Regions from separate parts of the Homo sapiens genome. Here region 2 is linked to region 1. Evidence: fine-mapped expression QTL. A gene starts in region 1. The other region holds a variant in brackets. All regions are shown on one strand. Distances are between the middles of the regions. Region 1 holds the start of URM1 (ubiquitin related modifier 1). Region 2 has its middle 9.9 kb from the start of MIR219A2HG.

Region 1 (8,303 bases):
GCAAGCTCCGCCTCCTGGATTCACGCCATTCTCCTGCCTCAGCCTCCCGAGTAGCTGGGACTACAGGTGCCCGCCATCACACCCGGCTAATTTTTTTTTGTATTTTTAGTAGAGACGGGGTTTCACCGTGTTAGCCAGGATGGTCTCGATCTCCTGACCTCGTGATCCGCCCGCCTCAGCCTCCCAAAGTGCTGGGATTACAGGCGTGTGCCACCGCACCCGGCCAACTGACAGGTTTTGTTCATCATTGTGTTCCCAGCAGCAACACTGGCCCTGGTGTGTAATAGGTTCTCAGTGAATGTTTGTCAGGTGGATGAAGCTCTTCAAATGCTCCCAAGTGCTCCATTCCAGCTCTGGGAGGCAGTTTCCAGGTCAGGGGACACTGAGGTGGGTTGGAATCAGAGGCTGTAAAGGGCTCTGTATGCCTTCTAGGTAGGCCCTTAGCTTGTTGGCAAAGGGAAGCCATTAAGTGACTTTGAGCAGGGGACTGATATCATTCATTCATTTACTCATTCAGCAAGCTCTTGGCAAACCCCTATAGAGTACAAAGTTCCGCACTACCTGCTATAATCAAAGATGAATCAGGAAAAGTTTCTGCCCAGAAGGAGCTTAGAGTACAGTAGAAGAATCTTAGAATATGTTTGCATAGAAGACCTTAGAAGATCATTTGGTCCCAAACCTCTTCACAGAATAGGGAAACTGAGTTCCACAGAGGGGTGGGTCACATGGCACGGTGAGGATGAGGCCTTTCTGTGTACCACGTGAGTCCTCCACTTTCCAAGGACCAGGGCAGTGTCTCATTTGTCCTTGTTTTATAGGAACAGGGCCTGGCACATTGAAGGGGCTCAAAGCTGTCCGTGGAGTTGATCTGTACAATGAAGCCAAGGCCAGAGGAGGTGGGAGGCAGGCAGGCCAGAGAGGAAGCAGGTGCAGGTGAGGTGATGAGCTGGAGGACTGGGGGGGCATGCCAGATTAGAAGGGAGACTCGGCTGGGCGCAGTGGCTCACGCCTGTAATCCCAGCACTTTGGGAGGCTGAGGCAGGCAGATCACGAGGTCAGGAGATTGAGACCATCCTGGCTAACATGGTGAAACCCCATCTCTACTAAAAACACAAAAAATTAGCCAGGCCTGGTGGCGGGCGCCTGTAATCCCAGCTACTTGGGAGGCTGAGGCAGGAGAATGGCGTGAACCCGGGAGACAGCTTGCAGTGAGCTGATATCGCACCACTGCCCTCCAGCCTGGGCGACAGAGTGAGACTCCGTCTCAAAAAAAAAAAAAAAGAAGGGAGACTCATCCAAATTTGGTGACTGTTTGGATATGAGAGAGGGAAAATTAGGGTAATTTGGGTGTTTACTTGGGTGTTTTGGTGGGTGGTAGTGGTATTCCTGAGATGGGGAACACAGAACCTGTTTTGTTTTGTTTGTTTTGAGACGGAGTCTAGCTCTCTTGTTGCGCCACTGCACTCCAGCCTCCCGGGTTCAAGCAGTTCTCCTGCTTCAGCCTCCCAAGTAGCTGGGATTACAGGTGTGCACCACCATGCCCAGCTAATTTTTCTATTTTTAGTAGAGATGGGTTTCACCATGTTGGCCAGGCTGGTCTCGAACTCCTGATCTCAAGTGATCCACCTGCCTCAGCCTCCCAAAGTGCTGGGATTACAGGTGTGAGCCACTGCGCCCGGCTGAGAGAACCTGTTTTAGGAAAGAGTCACTGTGCCAAGAACTTACTCACTCCTCACTACAACCTTATGGGGTTGGGATGTTATTATCCCCATTTTACAGATGAGGAAACTGAGGCGCAAAGCTGTTAAGGGACTTGCCCAAAGACACAGCTAGAAAGTAGTAGGACCTAGATATATTAATTTTTAATTTTAATTTTTATTTCAGACAGTCTCACTGTCACCCAGGGCTGGAGTGCAGTAGTGTAACCTCCGCCTCCCAGCTTGTGCCTCAGCCTCCTGAGTAGCTGGGACTACAGGTGTGTGCCACCATGCCTGGCTTTTGGTAGAGATGGGGTTTCATCATGTTGCCCAGGCTGGTTCTGAACTCCTGGCCTCAAGCAATCCATCCACCTTGGCCTCCCAAAATGCTGGGATTACAGGCGTGAGCCACTGTGCCTGGCCAGGGCCTGCATATAAAGCTGGTAGTTGTACTCCTAGATCTTTACAAAAAAAATTTTTTTTAAATTAAAAATTCTTTGGCCAAGCCAGGTGCAGTGGCTCACACCTGTAATCTCAGCACTTTGGGAGGCCAAGGCGGGCAGATCACCAGGTCAGGAGTTCGAGACCAGCCTGGCCAATATGGTGAAACCCCATCTCTACTAAAAGTACAAAAATTAGCCAGGATGATGGCGCAAGCCTGTAGTCCCAGATACTCGGGAAGCTGAGGCAGAAGACTCTCTTGAACCTGGCAGGCAGAGATTGCAGTGAGCCGAGGTCATGCCACTGCACTCCAGCCTGGGTGACAGAGCAAGAATCTGTCTCAAAAACAAAACAATTTTTTTTTGGCCCAGTGTGGTGCCTCACACCTGTAATCCCAGCACTTTGGGAGGCCAAGACAGGCAGACTGCTTGAGCCCAGGAGTTTGAGAGTAGCCTGGGCAACATGGTGAAAACATGTCTCTACAAAAAAATTTTAAAAATTAGCCGGGCATGGTGGACTAGAAGGAAGGAAGGACTTTATCAGTGCCTGTGGTCTCAGCTACTCTAGAGGCTGAGGCAGGAGGTTCCCTTGAGTCCAGCAGCTCAAGATTACAGTGAGCTGTGATCATGCCATTGCACTCCGGAGTCTCACTCTGTCATGCAGGCTGAATGCAATAGCATGATCACGGCTCACTGCAGCCTTGACCTCCAGGCTCAGGTGATCCTCCCCTCACAGCCTCCTGAGTAGCTGGGACAGGCACACTCCACCATGCCTGGCTGATTTTTGAAGAAACATTTACAGACATAGGGACTTGCTGTGTTGCCCAGGCTGGTCTCAAACTCCCAGCCAGAAGCAGTCCTCTTGCCTTGGCCTCCCAAAGCATTGGGATTACAGGTGTGAGTCGCCACACCCATTCCACCTGAACTCCTAGATCTTAACTATTACATCATTCTGCCCTTAACCACTAGGCTACACCATCATCCTCTACCAATGCTGAGTTCAGTTTTGGAAGTGTTGGTGTTTAGATACCCATAGGCCGTCTACTTCATTCCATTTCTTTTTTTTAGCGTCTCACTCTGTCGCCCAGGCTGGAGTCCAGTGGCACGATCTCGGCTCACTGCAACCTCTGCTGCTTCCTGGGTTCAAGGGATTCTCCTGCCTCTGCCTCCAGAGTAGTTGGGATTACAGGAGACTGCCACCATGCCTGGCTAATTTTTGTATTTTTAGTAGAGACAGGGTTTCACCATGTTGGCTAGACTGGTCTTGAACTCCTGACCTCGTGATCCGCCCATCGTGGCCTCTCGAAGTGCTAGGATTACAGGCATAAGCCACTGTGCCTGGCCAACTTCATTCCATTTCTGCCCTGGGCTTTTTTTTTTTTTTGAGACAGAGTCTTGCTCTGTCACCAGGCTGGAGTGCAGTGGCTCGATGTCAGCTCACTGCAACCTCCACCTCCCGGGTTCCAGCGATTCTTCTGCCTCAGCCTCCCGAGTAGCTGGGACTACAGGCGCACGCCACCACATCCAGCTAATTTTTGTATTTTTTTAGTAAAGACAGGGTTTTGCCATGTTGGCCAGGATGGTCTTGATCTCTTGACCTCGTGATCCGCCTGCCTCGGCCTCCCAAATTGCTGGGATGACAGGCGTGAGCCGCCGCGCCCGGCCTGCCCTGAGCCGCCGCGCCCGGCCTGCCCTGAGCTTTTGCAACAGGCTCCAGTGGTCTCCGTGTCTCTTTCCTTATTCCCCTCAAATCATTCTCCATATTGCAGCCAGAAATTATATTTTAAAACACAATTCTAAAATGTCACTGTCTCCCAAAACCCTTCAGTAGTCTCCCACTGCTCCTAGAGACTGAAATGTTTACCTGCTTACAAGGCAGGGGTTGGCCCCTGAGCACCTTTGCAGCTCCCTCTCTAGATGGATGAAAGTCAGGCTCCCTAACTTCCACCTTCCTCTCCATGTTCCAGCATGTTCTCACCCAGAGCCTCTGGGCCTTTTGTCCTCCTCACTGGAATGCTCCTAGAGGTTTCTCTCCCCTCACAGCCACCTAGTTTACTCAGGTTTTAGAGCCCAGCAAGTCCAGTCTACTCAGTTTTCTTTTTGAAGTTCCTATAACTTCAGTTCCTTTATTTAAGTTTGAGGTTGTACATGTCTTAGTATGCTTATTTGATTACAGTTAGTCTCCCCGCTAGACTGTGAGTGCCCTAAAGGCAGGAACCTTGCCCATCCCCTTTACCACTAGCACCGATCAAAATGCCTGGCACAGGGAGGCGCAATGAACAGCTGTTGAACGAGTGACTTCCAAATCGACAGCAAAGGGGGCGGCTGGATAGCGAGTCGCCCGCTCAGGAGAGATTCTGGGTCGGAAATAAAGATCTGGGAGTCATTTATAATTCCAACCAGACGAGTAGATGGGCTGGCCCAAGCGGTGTGTAGACTGAAGAGATTCTAACTCATGCAAGATAAGCAGCTACGTGGCTCACGGTCACGTCGCAAAAAACCTGGGGGCTCTCCTCCGCCTGCTTGTGGTCCCGTACAAGGCGCTTCCCACCCTGGGTCTCTGAGCCCAGTCGGTGAAAGACGGAAGGAGACCGATTCACAGCCCCAACAGCGCCGGTGATAGTCCCTCTGCCACCCCTTTCCCTCCGCTGCCCTCCCCTCCCCTCCCCTCCCCTCGATGACTTCCTCCAACAGCTGACGAAGCTGGATCCCTGGGCACCGCCTCTTCCGTCCGCGGCACCCGGAGACGCCCGGAAATTTGCGGGCGCGCCGGAAGTTGAGGGGAGTTTCCTGCGAGCTCGGCTTCCTCAACATGGCTGCGCCCTTGTCAGTGGAGGTGGAGTTCGGGTGAGTCACAGAGCTGGGGCGCCGTGGGGATGGATTGAAGTCGTCGGGCCCAGAATTCCTTTCCTTCTGCCGTGGGGCCTGACACGGCCGAATCACTGGGTGTCCCAGTGCCCGCTGTGAGCTACGCTACCCGCCTAGGAGAGTCTGAGAGGCCAGTCTCTCTTGGCAGTGAGGCCGTCTGTCCGGAAATAGAGGCGCACATTGGGAGGGAAATGCTCTCTGTGTACCACTCGGTGCCCTGTGCTCCGCCGGAGTCGGAGGTCGTGACTGTTAGCAGGCAGCCTCTCTCTCTTCTTTTCCATTCCTATCTCGGACCAATCCCATCTGTTTGGCATCTGAGCTCCTAGAACCTAGAAGGACCACCCTCCACCCGCTGATTTCATTCTTTGGGCAGCAGTTTCTTTTTACACTGTTATTAAGGTCTTGTTTCTCGTGGGATGTAGTGGCCAGGGCGGGACTTTTTTCTTTTTCTTTCCTAAGACTTGGGGATGGTAAACAGACCTGAGCCTCCTTCAGGACAGTCAGTAAACTTGCTGATTGCCTTCTGCAGAACTGGAGTCAGGTGGAGACACGGGGACAAATAAGAAATCACACTGAAGGGAACTAACAGGGACAGTATAGTATACACAAGATGAAAAATGCAGAGATTGGGACACACACCAGTTACTGAAGAAACACAGAGCAGGGAGGAAGTCTACCCAAGGCACTATTTGTGCTTCCTACAAACAGGTTTGTCATATGGTTTCAAAGCTGAGGGAAACTGCAGAGCTTAGAGAGAAGGCAAAGAAACAGGCCTTGAAAGATGGGTGGTGTACTTTACAGTATCACGTGGAAAAGAGGAAATAGGTAGGGATGTGTGTGTGTGTGTGTGGAATAGGTAGGTGTGTGTGTGTGCCTGTGTGTGTGTAGATAAGCCAAGGTCTATGTGACAGGAAAAGTCTGGGATGGGAATCTAAAACCTCTGCCCAGTGCCTTTCTTCTCATTGGATGCCTCCCATTTCTTTCATGTTTTCCCTTAATTGGGTAGTTCATTCACCAGCCATTTATTGAGTGCCTACCATGTGCCGGGCAGCAAGCCAGACACTGAGGATACAAAGATAAATAGAAGTCTGTCCGTGCCCTACAGCGTTCAGCATTTCTGCCCCTTAGAAGGGGGGTAAGTCTCATGACTAAGTGCATTTTAATTGATATTGTCTGGCTGCTTGGATCCAATTAGAACTGTATTGGTCTGGACTCCTCACTGTTTTGCCTCACTGACCCTTGGCCCAGCTACACTCCCCAAAGCCTGGGATTCTAGGAGGATCCCTGCTTCCTTGACAGGCCTCAGCAGAGCTGGAAAGAGAGAAGCCACAGACTGCTGTGTTAAGATTTATCTGGGCCAGGCATGGAGGCTCATGCCTGTAATCCTAGTACTTTGGGAGGCTTGGGCAGGAGGACTGCTTGAGCCCAAGAATTCGAGACCAGCCTTGGCAACATGGGGAGACTTCATCTCTACCAAAAAAAAAAAAAAGAAGATTTATCTGCAGACAACTTGCCTTTCATCCTCATGAGTCAGACATGGTCTTTGTTTATCAACAATGTCTCTGCTAGGTACTGTGCTAGCTCAGTGGGGAAGTCATGTGAGGAAGATGGGGCCATTGCTCTCCAGAGCTTACAAACCAGCACAATTGCCCTTTTTCTGACCCAATCATCTCTAACTTCAGTCTCCCTTACCTCCAAGAGCAATAATGACCCCTGGCAAGGCAGGACAACATTCCTCCACCCACCCACCCACCCACCCACCTTCTATCACCTCCTGTCACAGCACAGCGTTCCATGAAAATTGCAGCATTCTCAGGAATGCCCAACATGATGCTCAACCCAGGTTCCTTCTCTCTTTGTCCTTGTGTTGATGCACGTTTTTGCCCTGACCTTTCTTTCATTTCCTATGTATCTTAGCAGACATGATTCACCCTTATCCAGAACTGGAGCAAATTTGCAAAGGCTAACACGCCCTTCATTTTCTCTCTTTTGTCCCTTAGTGGCCCCACTCCCACTCCAGTTCTGGAAGGGTCTCCCTCCTGAGCAGATGTAGTCCTCTTGGCCCCACCAGCTCCTCCAGAGACCCTCTGGAAGGCCTCTAACACCTTCCTTCTTGTCAGTGACCACGTCTGCCACCCTTTGTCTTCCCCCTGAATTGTTCTCAGCAGAGCGTTTTCTCAGGTCACGCAGGATTCAAAGTATGTAATATAGTTGTGTTTTGTGTCCCTGTGGTCCATGTTGTAAAGGCCCAGATATGGAGTTCTCTCCGTCCCACCCCTCTTCCTCCTTCCCAAGTTGGGGAGGTATTGGCAAAAGGAGGGAATGTCATTGAGGTCAGAGAAGAACTGGGAGAAATGGGCATTTCCTTTCCTTTAGCAGATATTTGTTGAGTGTCTACCATGTGCCAGGCCCTGTTTTAGGCAGAGCTTGCAGCCCAGCAGGTGGAGAGGAAGTAAATAAACAAAATATATATATACGTGTATATGTATGTGTATATACAGAAGATTAAAAGATGAAGATACATCAGAAAAGGTGAAGGTGGTTTTGAGAATATCTATACCTGTCACTGGTATCTACAAACACATCCACCAAGAATTGGGGGGGTTGAAGGAAGATGGAGATATGTCAGTTGAGTTTGAATAGCAGATCTTATAAGACATAAGAGAGTCTGGCCTTGGTCTCTCCTGGGCTAGAACAGGCCCCTTGTCTGCCTCCCTGAATCACTCTTGAGGCTGGGCATGCACCTTCCCCCACTCCAGATGTGCTGACAGCAGAAATGCCAACCCCTCCCTTGAGGGCCAGTGAATTCAGCAGTGACAGGTCACTCTCTGAGCGAGACTGGTTCTCCCTTCATCCGCTTGTAAAGGGAAAAACAGCCTCGGCCTCTGAGCCTGGCACCACCAGGTTTGGCCAGTCTTGGTTGTTTGCCTAAGTCCCAGTGCCTTCAGTTCCCATCCCTCTTCTCTGACCCCCAACTCCTGAGCCCCTTGCCTGTCACCCTCCCCCACCCCAGCTGCTGCATGTGCCAACCCCCCACCCAGGAGAAAACGAGGCTCTTGGAAGGGAATAAATGGAGGCTCTGTGCAGGCTTGCAGCTGAAATGGCCCTGTGCGCGGCCACAGATGGGCCTCCTCTCCCCCTCCACATTTCTGCATCAACAAAGCGTGACCTTGTTTGGATGACAGTCGCCCCATGTTTTCCCCATGACAATGCTTGCCTTGCCTTTGCCTCCCAGCGGGCTGTCTCAGGACATCTCTGTTCCCTGAAATTGGGAAAGGGTGGTGGGGTGGAAGACATC
Region 2 (9,752 bases), 33 kb after region 1:
GGGAGGGTGAGACAGGAGAATGGCGTGAACCCGGGAGACGGAGCTTGCAGTGAGCCGAGGTCACGCCACTGCACTCCAGCCTGGGCAACAGAGCAAGACTCCGTCTCAAAAAAAAAAAAATTAAAAAAGAAGACGGCAGAGTTGTCCACACTGCCAGTTAAGCAAGCCCTTCCTTCCCACCAGGACTGGCTTTTTTTTTTTTTTTTTTTGAGACGGAGTCTCGGTCTGTCATCCAGGCTGGAGTGCAGTGGCGTGATATCGGCTCACTGCAACCTCCACTTCCCGGGTTCAAGCAATTCTCCTGCATCAGCCTCCCAAGTAGCTGGGACTACAGGCACGTGCCACCACACTCAGCTAAATTTTGTATTTTTAGTAGAGGTGGGTTGAGACCAGGATGGTCTCAATCTCTTGACCTCATGATCCACCCGCCTCAGCCTCCCAAAGTGCTGGGATTACAGGCGTGAGCCACCGCACCCGGCTTTTTTTTTTTTTTTTTGAAGTGGAGTCTCACTCTGTCACGCAGTCTGGAGTGCAGTGGCACAATCTCCATTCACTGCAACCCCTGCCTCCCAGATTCAAGCAATTCTCATGCCTCAGCCTCTCAAGTAGCTGGGACTATAGGTGTGTGCCACCATGCCCAGCTAATTTTTGTATTTTTAGTAGAGATGGGGTTTCACTGTGTTGGCCTCAAACTCCTGACCTCAAGTGATCCGCCCACCTCAGCCTCCCAAAGTGCTGGGATTACAGGCATGAGCCATCGCACCTGGCCTGGCCTGGCCTGGCATTTTACCAAGGATTTTTTTTTTTTTTTTTTTTTTTTTGGTTATGGAGTCCTGCTCTGTCACCCAGGCTGAAGTGCAGTGGCGCAATCTCGGCTCAGTGCAACCTCCACCTCCCAGGTTCAAGCAATTCTCCCTGCCTCAGCCTCCCACTTAGCTGGGACTACAGGTGCCCACCACCACGCCTGGCTAATTTTTGTATTTTTAGTAGAGTCAGGGTTTTGCCATGCTGGCCAGGCTGGTCTCGAACTCCTGACCTCAGGTGATCCTTCTCGGCCTCCCAAAGTACTGAGATTACAGGCGTGAGCCACCGCACCAGGCCTTTACCAAGGATTTGACCAAACATTGTGCTCAGCACAAAGGACATGCTCAGTAAACATCTGTTGAATGAATGATGAATGAATGAATGAATTGATGAATGCTTTATTGAAGTAATAATTAAATGAATGGTAGATGGAGACGGATGCATGAAAAAGCAGACTTTGGGACAATGGAGTGAAAGATGAAATTAATAAGGAATTGACAGTGGGTGCACGGATGTTTGCAGCCAATCAGCTGAGGTTCTAGGTGTGGCACTTGAGATATTGCTGTGGGTGAGGCTCATTGAAGGGGGCTGGGAGGGGCTTCTGTCATGCAGCAGCCTCAGTTCTGCACTTTAAGGCAAGTCCAGGACCCAGAGCATGCAGACAGATGCCCAGGGAACAGCTGTGGCGACAGGCTCCACCTCTGTGCCAGATCTTTCCATCCCTAGATTCCTGTCCCCAAGTGTTTCTGTCAATCCGGGTTTCACTGTGATTTGGCCTGGCAGCCTGGGATAGAGGAAAGAACCCTATTGCTATTCAGTGTGCCTCCATAGGCCAGGCCCTTGCCCACTCTGGGCTTCAGTAGCCAGAACCATTTATACAAAGAGAATTCTCTAAGACTGGCCGGCACTCTTACATGGTGACTGGCCAGGTGTCCTACCTCTAGAAATGAACTGACAACCTGACTCACTCCAGTCTCAGAAGATGCCAGAGCCAGGCCACCTGTCCCCACTCAGAGGGGATCCTAAGAACCCCTCCACCCTGCCTAGCATTTTTCGGCTTACAGAAGATGTTCCTCTCTATGAAGTGAGTGAAGGCAGGGCAGGGAAGCCTTCCAGGTTAAAACATGCACCTGCCCGGCACGCTTCAGCCCATCGTGCTGTGTTGATGTCTTCCTTGACTGGATCACTCCCTGAAAGTGTCATATTTACCAGCTGTCTTGTTTGTCACCTACTAGAACAGAAGCTGTATGAGGGATCACGTCCTGTTCATTACTAAATCCCCAGCACCTAGAACAACGCCTGCCCCTTGGAAGGTGCTAAGTTTTTTTGTTTTGTTTTGTTTTGTTTTAGATGAAGTTTCACTCTTGTCACCCAGGCTGGAGTGCAATGGCGCGATCTCGGCTCACTGCAGCCTCCGCCTCCCGGGTTCAAGCAGTTATCCTGCCTCAGCCTCCCGAGTAGCTGGGACTACAGTGGCCTGCCACCACACCCGTCTAATTTTTGTATTTTTAGTAGTGACAGGGTTTCACCATGTTGGCCAGGCTGGTCTCAAACTCCTGACCTCAGGTGATCCGCCCACCTCAGCCTCCCAAAGTGCTGGGATTACAGGCGTGAGCCACCGCGCCCGGCTGGAAGGTGCTAAATTTTTGTTTTTCTTTCTTTTTTCCTTTTCTTTTTTTTGAGACGGAGTCTCACTCTGTCACCCAGGCTGGAGTGCAGTGGCGCGATCTCGGCTCACTGCAAGCTCCGCCTCCTGGGTTCACGCCATTCTCCTGCCTCAGCCTCCCGAGTAGCCGGGACAACAGGCGCCCACCACCACACGTGGCTAACTTTTTGTACTTTTAATAGAGATGGGGTTTCACCGTGTTAGCCAGGATGATCTCGATCTCCTAACCTCATGATCCACCCGCCTCGGCCTCCCAAAGTGCTGGGATTACAGGCGTGAGCCACCACGCCCGGCCGGAAGGTGCTGTTTTATTAAATACCTGGGTCAAGGAATAAATAGATACATGGACCATTGTAATCTGGACCATTGTAATCTAGTTAGCAACAACTACCATATATTAAGCACTGAGCACTGGGCTAAGCGCTTGACATGCATCACTACAGCCCTTCAGAGAAATTCTATCACTCTCCGCATTTTACCCACTAGGAACCTGAGGCCAAGAGAGAGCAAGCAACTTCCCCCAGGTACAGAGCTCCTGAATGACAGAGATAGGTTTTATTGATTTCAATTAATCTTTTTTTTTTTTTTTTTGAGACAGAATTTCGCTCTTGTTGCCCAGGCTAGAGTGCAGTGGTGTGATCTCGGCTCACTGCAACCTCTGCCTCCTGGGTGCCTCATCCTCCCAAGTAGCTGGGATTACAGGCATGTGCCACCACGCCTAGCTAATTTTGTATTTTTAGTAGAGACAGGGTTTCACTGTGTTGGTCAGGCTAGTCTTGAACTCCTGACCTCAGGTGATCCACCCGCCTCAGCCTTTCAAAGTGCTGGGATTACAGGCATGAGCCACCGCACCCAGTGTCAATTAATTATTATTATTTTTAATAGAGATGGGGTCCCAGGCCGGGCACGGTGGCTTGTGCCTGTAATCCCATCACTTTGGGAGGCCGAGGCAGGTGGATTGCTTGAGCTCAGGAGTTCAAGACCAGTGTGGCCAACATGGTGAAACCCCGTTTCTACCAAAAAATAAAAAAAATAACTGGGTGTGTTGGTGGGCACCCGTAATCCCAGCTACTCTGGAGGCTGAGGTGGGAGAATTGCTTGAACCCAGGAAGTGGAGGTTGCAATGAG[T/C]GTAGATCTCGTCACTGCATTGCAGCCTGGGCATCAGAGTGAGACTCTGTCTAAAAAGAAAGAAAGAGAGATCCTTCCTGGCTAACACGATGAAACCCTGTCTCTACTAAAAATACAAAAAAATTAGCCAGGCGTGGTGGAGGGCGCCTGTAGTCCCAGCTACTCTGGAGGCTGAGGCAGAAGAATGGCATGAACCTGGGAGGCGGAGCTTGTAGTGAGCCGAGATCGCACCACTGGACTCTAGCCTGGGCGACAGAGCGAGACTCCGTCTCAAAAAAAATAATAAAAAAGAGAGATGAGGTCTTGCTATGTTGCCTAGACTGGTCCTAAACTCCTAGGCTCAAGTGATCTTCCCACCTCTGCTTCCCAAAGTGTTGGTATTATAGTTGTGAGCCACCACGCCCTGCCAAGAGCTAGAGTTTTGGTTTTTTTTTTTTTTTTTTTTGAGATGGAGTTTCGCTCTTGTTGCCCAGGCTGGAGTGCAATGGCATGATCTTGGCTCACTGCAACCTCCACCTCCCAGGTTCAAGCTATTCTCCTGCCTCAACCTCCCAAGTAGCTGGGATTACAGCCATGTGCCATCACGCCCAACTAATTTTGTATTTTTAGTAGAGACGAGGTTTCTCCATGTTGGTCAGACTGGTCTTGAACTCCTGATCTCAGGTGATCTGCCCACCTCAGCCTCCCAAAGTGCTGGGATTACAGGCATGAGCCACCACACCCGGCCCTAGGTTTGTTTTAGACCTAAGTCTGCGTATCTGCAAAGACCACATTCTTCAATACTTCACCACCTCACTCCTCTTACTCTATTGCCCCAGTACCCAGTGAAGTAGGAACCATTGGAAGTTAAGGAGTTGGGACTCACGAGAGTTCAAGACCATCCTGGACAACATAGTGGGAACCCATCTCTGCAAAAAAAAAAAATTAGCTGGGCATGGTGATGGGTGCCTGTAGTCCCAGCTGCTTGGGAGGCTGAGGCAGAAGGATCACTTGAGTCTAGGAGGTTGAGGCTGCAGTGAGCCATGAGTGTGCCACTGCACTCCAGCCTGGGTGACAGAGAGAAACCATGTCTAAAAAATAATAATAATTGGGACTTAGACATACTGTATAATTCCATTTACATGAAATATCCAGAATAGGCAAATCTATTGAGACAGAAAGCAGATTAGTGGTTGCCTAGGGCTGGGGAGAAGGGCAGTTGGGGAGAAATGGGGAATGATGGCTAATGAGTATGGGCTTTCTTTCTTTCTTTCTTTTTTTGAGATGGAGTCTCACTCTGTCATGCAGGCTGGAGTGCAGTGGTGCGATCTCAGCTCACTGCAACCTCCGTCTCCTGGGTTCAAGCAATTCTCCTTGCCTCAACCTCCCGAGTAGCTGGGATTACAAGTGCCCACCACCACGCCCTGCTAATTTTTGTATTTTTCTAGTAGAGATGTAGTTTCACCATGTTGCCCAGGCTGATCTTGAACTCTTGACCTCAGGTGATCAGCCCACCTTGACCTCCCAAAGTGCTGGGATTACAGGTGTGAGCCACCACGCCCAGCCTGAGTATGGGCTTTCTTTTCAAAATAATGAAAATATAAAATGGCTTGTTGTGATGGTTGCACAATTCTTGAATATACTAAAAGCTGTTGAATGATACACTTTAAGTAGGCAAATTGCATGGCATGTGAATTACATCTCAACAATGCTGTTATGAAAAAAAAAGAGGCCGGGCACAGTGGCTCACACCTGTAATCCTAGCACTGGCCGAAGCGGCTCACACCTGTAATCCCAGCACTGGCCGAAGCGGGTGGATCATGAGGTCAGGAGATCGACACCATCCTGGCTAACACGGTGAAATCCCATCTCTACTAAAAATACAAACAATTAGCTGGGCATGGTGGTGGGCACCTGTAGTCCCAGCTACTCCGGAGGCTGAGGCAGGAGAATGGCGTGAACCCGGGAGGCGGAGGTTGCAATGAGCCAAGATCCCGCCACTCTGCCACTGCACTCCAGCCTGGGTGACAGAGCAAGACTCCATCTCAAAAAAAAAAAAAAAAAGATAAAAAGAGAGGGATGGGGCTCAGGAATCCCACCTCTGCCACTTACCTGCTTGGCACATGACTTCATACCTCCCAACCTCAGCTTCCTTAACCAATAAAATAGGAAAAATAAACATCTCCTGGGTCTTTTGTGAGGATTAAATGAGATAATACATATTATTATTCCCATTTTATCAAGGAGGAAACAGGCCCAGAGAAGGGAAGTGACTTGGGTGCAGATGGCACAGCTGGTGGGTGGCAGGTGAGAGACTCAGGCCTGGGTCTCATGGCACCACCCCATCTTTTAGCATTGTGTAGAGTGGACCAGTGTCTGCACACTCCACCCACCCCTTCACCAACACTCTCTTCCATCTCCCTCCTTCTCTTGGGCTCTGGGGCCCTGTCTCCCCACTGCTCACGCTCAGAACAAGTGGAGGTGGCTGAGTCCCCCCAGAGCACAGGACACCCTCTCCCCCAGCCCCCACCCTGCTCCCCTCCTGGGGCCATGATGCTGTCTTGCTTTTGCTTGTAATAAAGAAAATATCTCAGCTACCCTTCCATGGTTGCTTGGCAACCCCGAGGGGGGTTGGGTGGGGGGGACCAAGGGGAGGAGGGATGGGGGAGGATTCTGGAGCCAATCTGGAGACAAAGAGTAGGATTTGGGTGACATGGAGCCTGTTCTTAGTGCTAACCTGGCCTGGCTGGGGCGGCGGGTGGGGGCAGCGGGCTTCCTCCCACCCCAGTGTCTCACACCAATAAATATGGATTAGGGAAATGGGCTGAGTTTTTCCCACGGGCCTGAAAGGCCGCATCTGACCTTTCTACCCCCTTTATGTACCAATGTGACAGTCAGAGACAGCAAAGAGCAGGACCCCCTGAGATGCCTCCCCCATGGCCTTCTGACTTGGGGAAACTTTTCACCCTCCTCCTTCCCCTGGCCACAGACCAGGTCACAGCTCTGCCTGGGCCCTTGTTCCGGGGATGAGAAGGAGGCTGGTTTCCAGGTGGGCGCCAGGAGCTCCCATCCTCAGTGTCCACTCCGGGCCCTGCTGGCCGTGACCGGTGCAGAGCCAGGCTGTGAGGCCCTGGACTGGTTAGTGACGGCCCTGCCTGCCTCCTAGACAGTCCTCTGCTCTGTGGCTCCCCCATCCTGTCCCTGCCCCATCTCTGCCTGGGCCGCCTCCATCAGGAGCCCTATCGTCCGTGTCCCTTTGCGTCCCTCTCCTCAGATACTTCCCACCACCCTCTTCTCGACTTGGTTTCCCTCTTTCTCTCCTCCTGCCAGCCCCCCACGCCCCAGTCGTCCATGAAACTAGGAAGCCCTTGTGGCTGAGGTATCTCCTGCAGTGAAGAGGGCAGGAAGGGTTGTGGAGGGGGAGGTGGGGGCCGTGATCTCACTCCCTGGTGCCCTGACTTTCTGGTCGTTGGCCGGGGGTGGGGATCGGCTGCTCTGAATGGAGTCAGTGTAGAGGCAGGAAAAGCAAACACCTCCGTGTGGGCCCTGCTGGCAGTGGATGGGAGCGGTCGGGGGGCAGGGGCCTGGGCTCCTCTCAGCCTCCTTGATCAGACCTCTCCCCACTCCTGAGGCTCCCTGTCTTCCTGGACCTTTGGCCTACAGTGTCCAGAAGGAGAGTGGGGTGAAGGTTTAGGGGGAAGCCCTCTGGGAGACGTCTTTGCTCAAATCTTTCCCTGCTCCTCTGCCCAACCCCCAGCCAGTGCCCTTCCTGCCCAGCAGATGCCAGGAAAATCTGTGCCCGGGAAGGGCGGTCTGGCACCTGAGGGCCCCGCCTGACCAGTCCTTCTCAGCAGCAGGAGCTGGGTGGGAGTCACCTTATGCCAGAGACGCCCCAGCAGTGCCATCCACCTCCTGGGCTGAGGAGTACCCCCAAGAGGCTCTGCCCGGGTGAGTGCTCCTCTGGCCCCACAGCCAGGCAGTGAGGGAGGGAGAGGTTGTCCATGTCGGGGCTCCCCAAGACCCCCACAATCTCCGTGAGTCCTCATGGTTCTGTGGCCTTTTCTGTTGTGACTGTCTCACCCTCTGTCTGGGACTCGTGTGTCACTGATGGTTTGGTGAGGGGAGCTGAAGGGATGGTTAGAGAAGCTGGAGGAGAGGGCTGGGAATGTGAGGAGGTAGGAGGGGCTGGAGTCTAGGGTATAGGACTCCTGGATTCCCAGCCAGGTTTTTGTGTTTTATTTTTATTTGTATGATTTTTAAATTTCTGTTTTAAAAGATGAGGTCTCTCTTGCATGGAATATATCTTTATATTAAAAAAAAAAAAAAAAAGATAAGGTCTCACTATGTTGCCCAGGCTGGTCTTGAACTCCTGGGCTCAAGCAATCCTCCCACCTCAGCCTCCCTAAATGCTGTGATTACAGGCCTGAGCTACCGCACCCAGCCTAGCCAACTTTCTGATTAGATTTGTGAAATCACAGAGGCTGCTGTAATGGTTTCCTTTTAACACTTTGGATTCTAAAAGACCTTTGGAATGAGCTCAGAGAGAGTTAGCAGTTCATCCCGGGTGACACAGCAAACTGCTGGTACTCAAACCCACCAGGCCCCCTCATCACACCGCAGGCTGTTTGTGTTATGGAAGCCATCTTTGACCACCTCTCTCTTTCCCTCTCCACATGCAGTTTCCCCCTGAATTTAAGAGGCTGAGGGGTGGAGGGAGCCGACTCTGCCTAGCACCTCCAGGCCTTTCCTTTCTGTTGTCTCTCCAGGCACCATGCCCAGGGCCCAGCCTAGTAGCAGGAGCAGCCCCTGCCTGGGCCTCAGAGCGCCACAATCTCCTCTGACTATCCCTGGGAAGCCGTGGTTGGCTTTTGCCTTACATCCCCCAGAGAATGGCGTCTTTGTTCTTGGTGTCTAACCATAGTCCCTCATGTTGTCTTTAAAGCCCAACCACTTCCCAAAAAGCAAGGTCAACAGCTGACTGCATACCACAGCACCCCAGTGGTTCCTGCTTTGAGGTGGGACCTGGCTGGGGGGACCCTGCCGAGTAGAAACAGGCATTCCTCACTGGGTCAGGCTCTGTTCTGAGGTCGTCCACGTACCTTGCTGAATGGTGGTCACCACATTCCTGCAGTGTGGAGTCAGTTTTACAGATTGGAAAACTGAGACACGGAGCATTGAAGTGACTCATCTGTGGACACACTGCGAGAAAAAGAGCTGGGATTCAAGCCCATAGCTTGGCTGCAGAGCCCAATCCCTTAAACGTTCTTCCATAGTGCCTCTGATTCCTAGGAGGCCTCCGCTGGAGGTCATTGCATTCAATCCCCTGCATCTGGATGTCTACCCAGGCCCACCTCTGTTCACAGATAAAAATCAATCAAGCTTTTTTTTAAATAAACTTTATTTTTATTTTTTGAGACACAGTCTCACCCTGTCGCCCAGGCTGGAGTGAATGGCCACCATGCTTGGCTGATTTTTGTATTTTTTGTAGAGATGGAGTTTTGCCATGTTGCCCAGGCTGGTCTTGAGCTCCTGGGCTTAAGTGATCCACCTGCCTCAGCCTCCCAAAGTGCTGGGATTACAGGCGGGAGCCTCCCAAAGTGCTTGTCCAACCTCGTTTTTAAAGGCAACTGCAGCTGGGCACAGTGGTTCACGCCTGTAATCCCAGCACTTTGGGAGGCCAAGGAGGGCTGATCACAAGGTCAGGAGTTGAGAGACCAGCCTGGCCAATATGGTGAAACTCCATCTCTACTAAAAATACAAAAATTAGCCAGGCGTAGTGGCGGGTGCCTGTAGTCCCAGCTACTCGGGAGGCTGAGGCAGGAGAATCGCTTGAACCCGGGAGGTGGAGGTTGCAGTGAGCCAAGTTCGCGCCACTGCACTCCAGCCTGGGTGACAGAGCGAGATTCTGTCTCAAAAAATAAATAAATAAATAAATAAATAAATAAATAAATAAAGGCACCTGCTCCAAGGATGGAATTTCCCCTGGGGATAAGCAGACATTTCTTTATTCATAGCCTTCTGGCAGGGAGGGAAGACCCTCCCAGCCAGAACTCACCATGTCCAGCTGCCTCGTTGTTCCTCTCTCCTTCCCACTGGAGTATAATTTCAGGAAGGAAGCGGCTCCGCCTTGAGTATTGGCTCCACAACCTCCAGGCTGTGTGGCGTTGGACAAATG

The links. PIP is the estimated chance that this variant, and not a neighbour inherited with it, causes the effect. A credible set is the group of variants that fine-mapping cannot tell apart.
Region 2: its variant is the best candidate, but not a certain one, in a credible set for the expression of URM1 in liver (GTEx, PIP 0.59).

The regions. Positions count from the first base shown.
Region 1 is chr9:128,366,432-128,374,734 of GRCh38, forward strand. URM1 (ubiquitin related modifier 1) reads left to right here and starts at 4,943. Exons shown (of 5, transcript NM_030914.4): 1 at 4,943-4,984. The coding sequence starts at 4,950. RefSeq lists enhancers at 3,250-4,114, 4,115-4,978, 5,042-5,141.
Region 2 is chr9:128,398,564-128,408,315 of GRCh38, forward strand. No RefSeq gene overlaps it. Among named protein-coding and RNA genes, the nearest start is that of MIR219A2HG, 9.9 kb to the left of the region's middle. RefSeq lists an enhancer at 6,194-6,994. The variant T/C (reference allele first, on the strand shown) is at 3,599.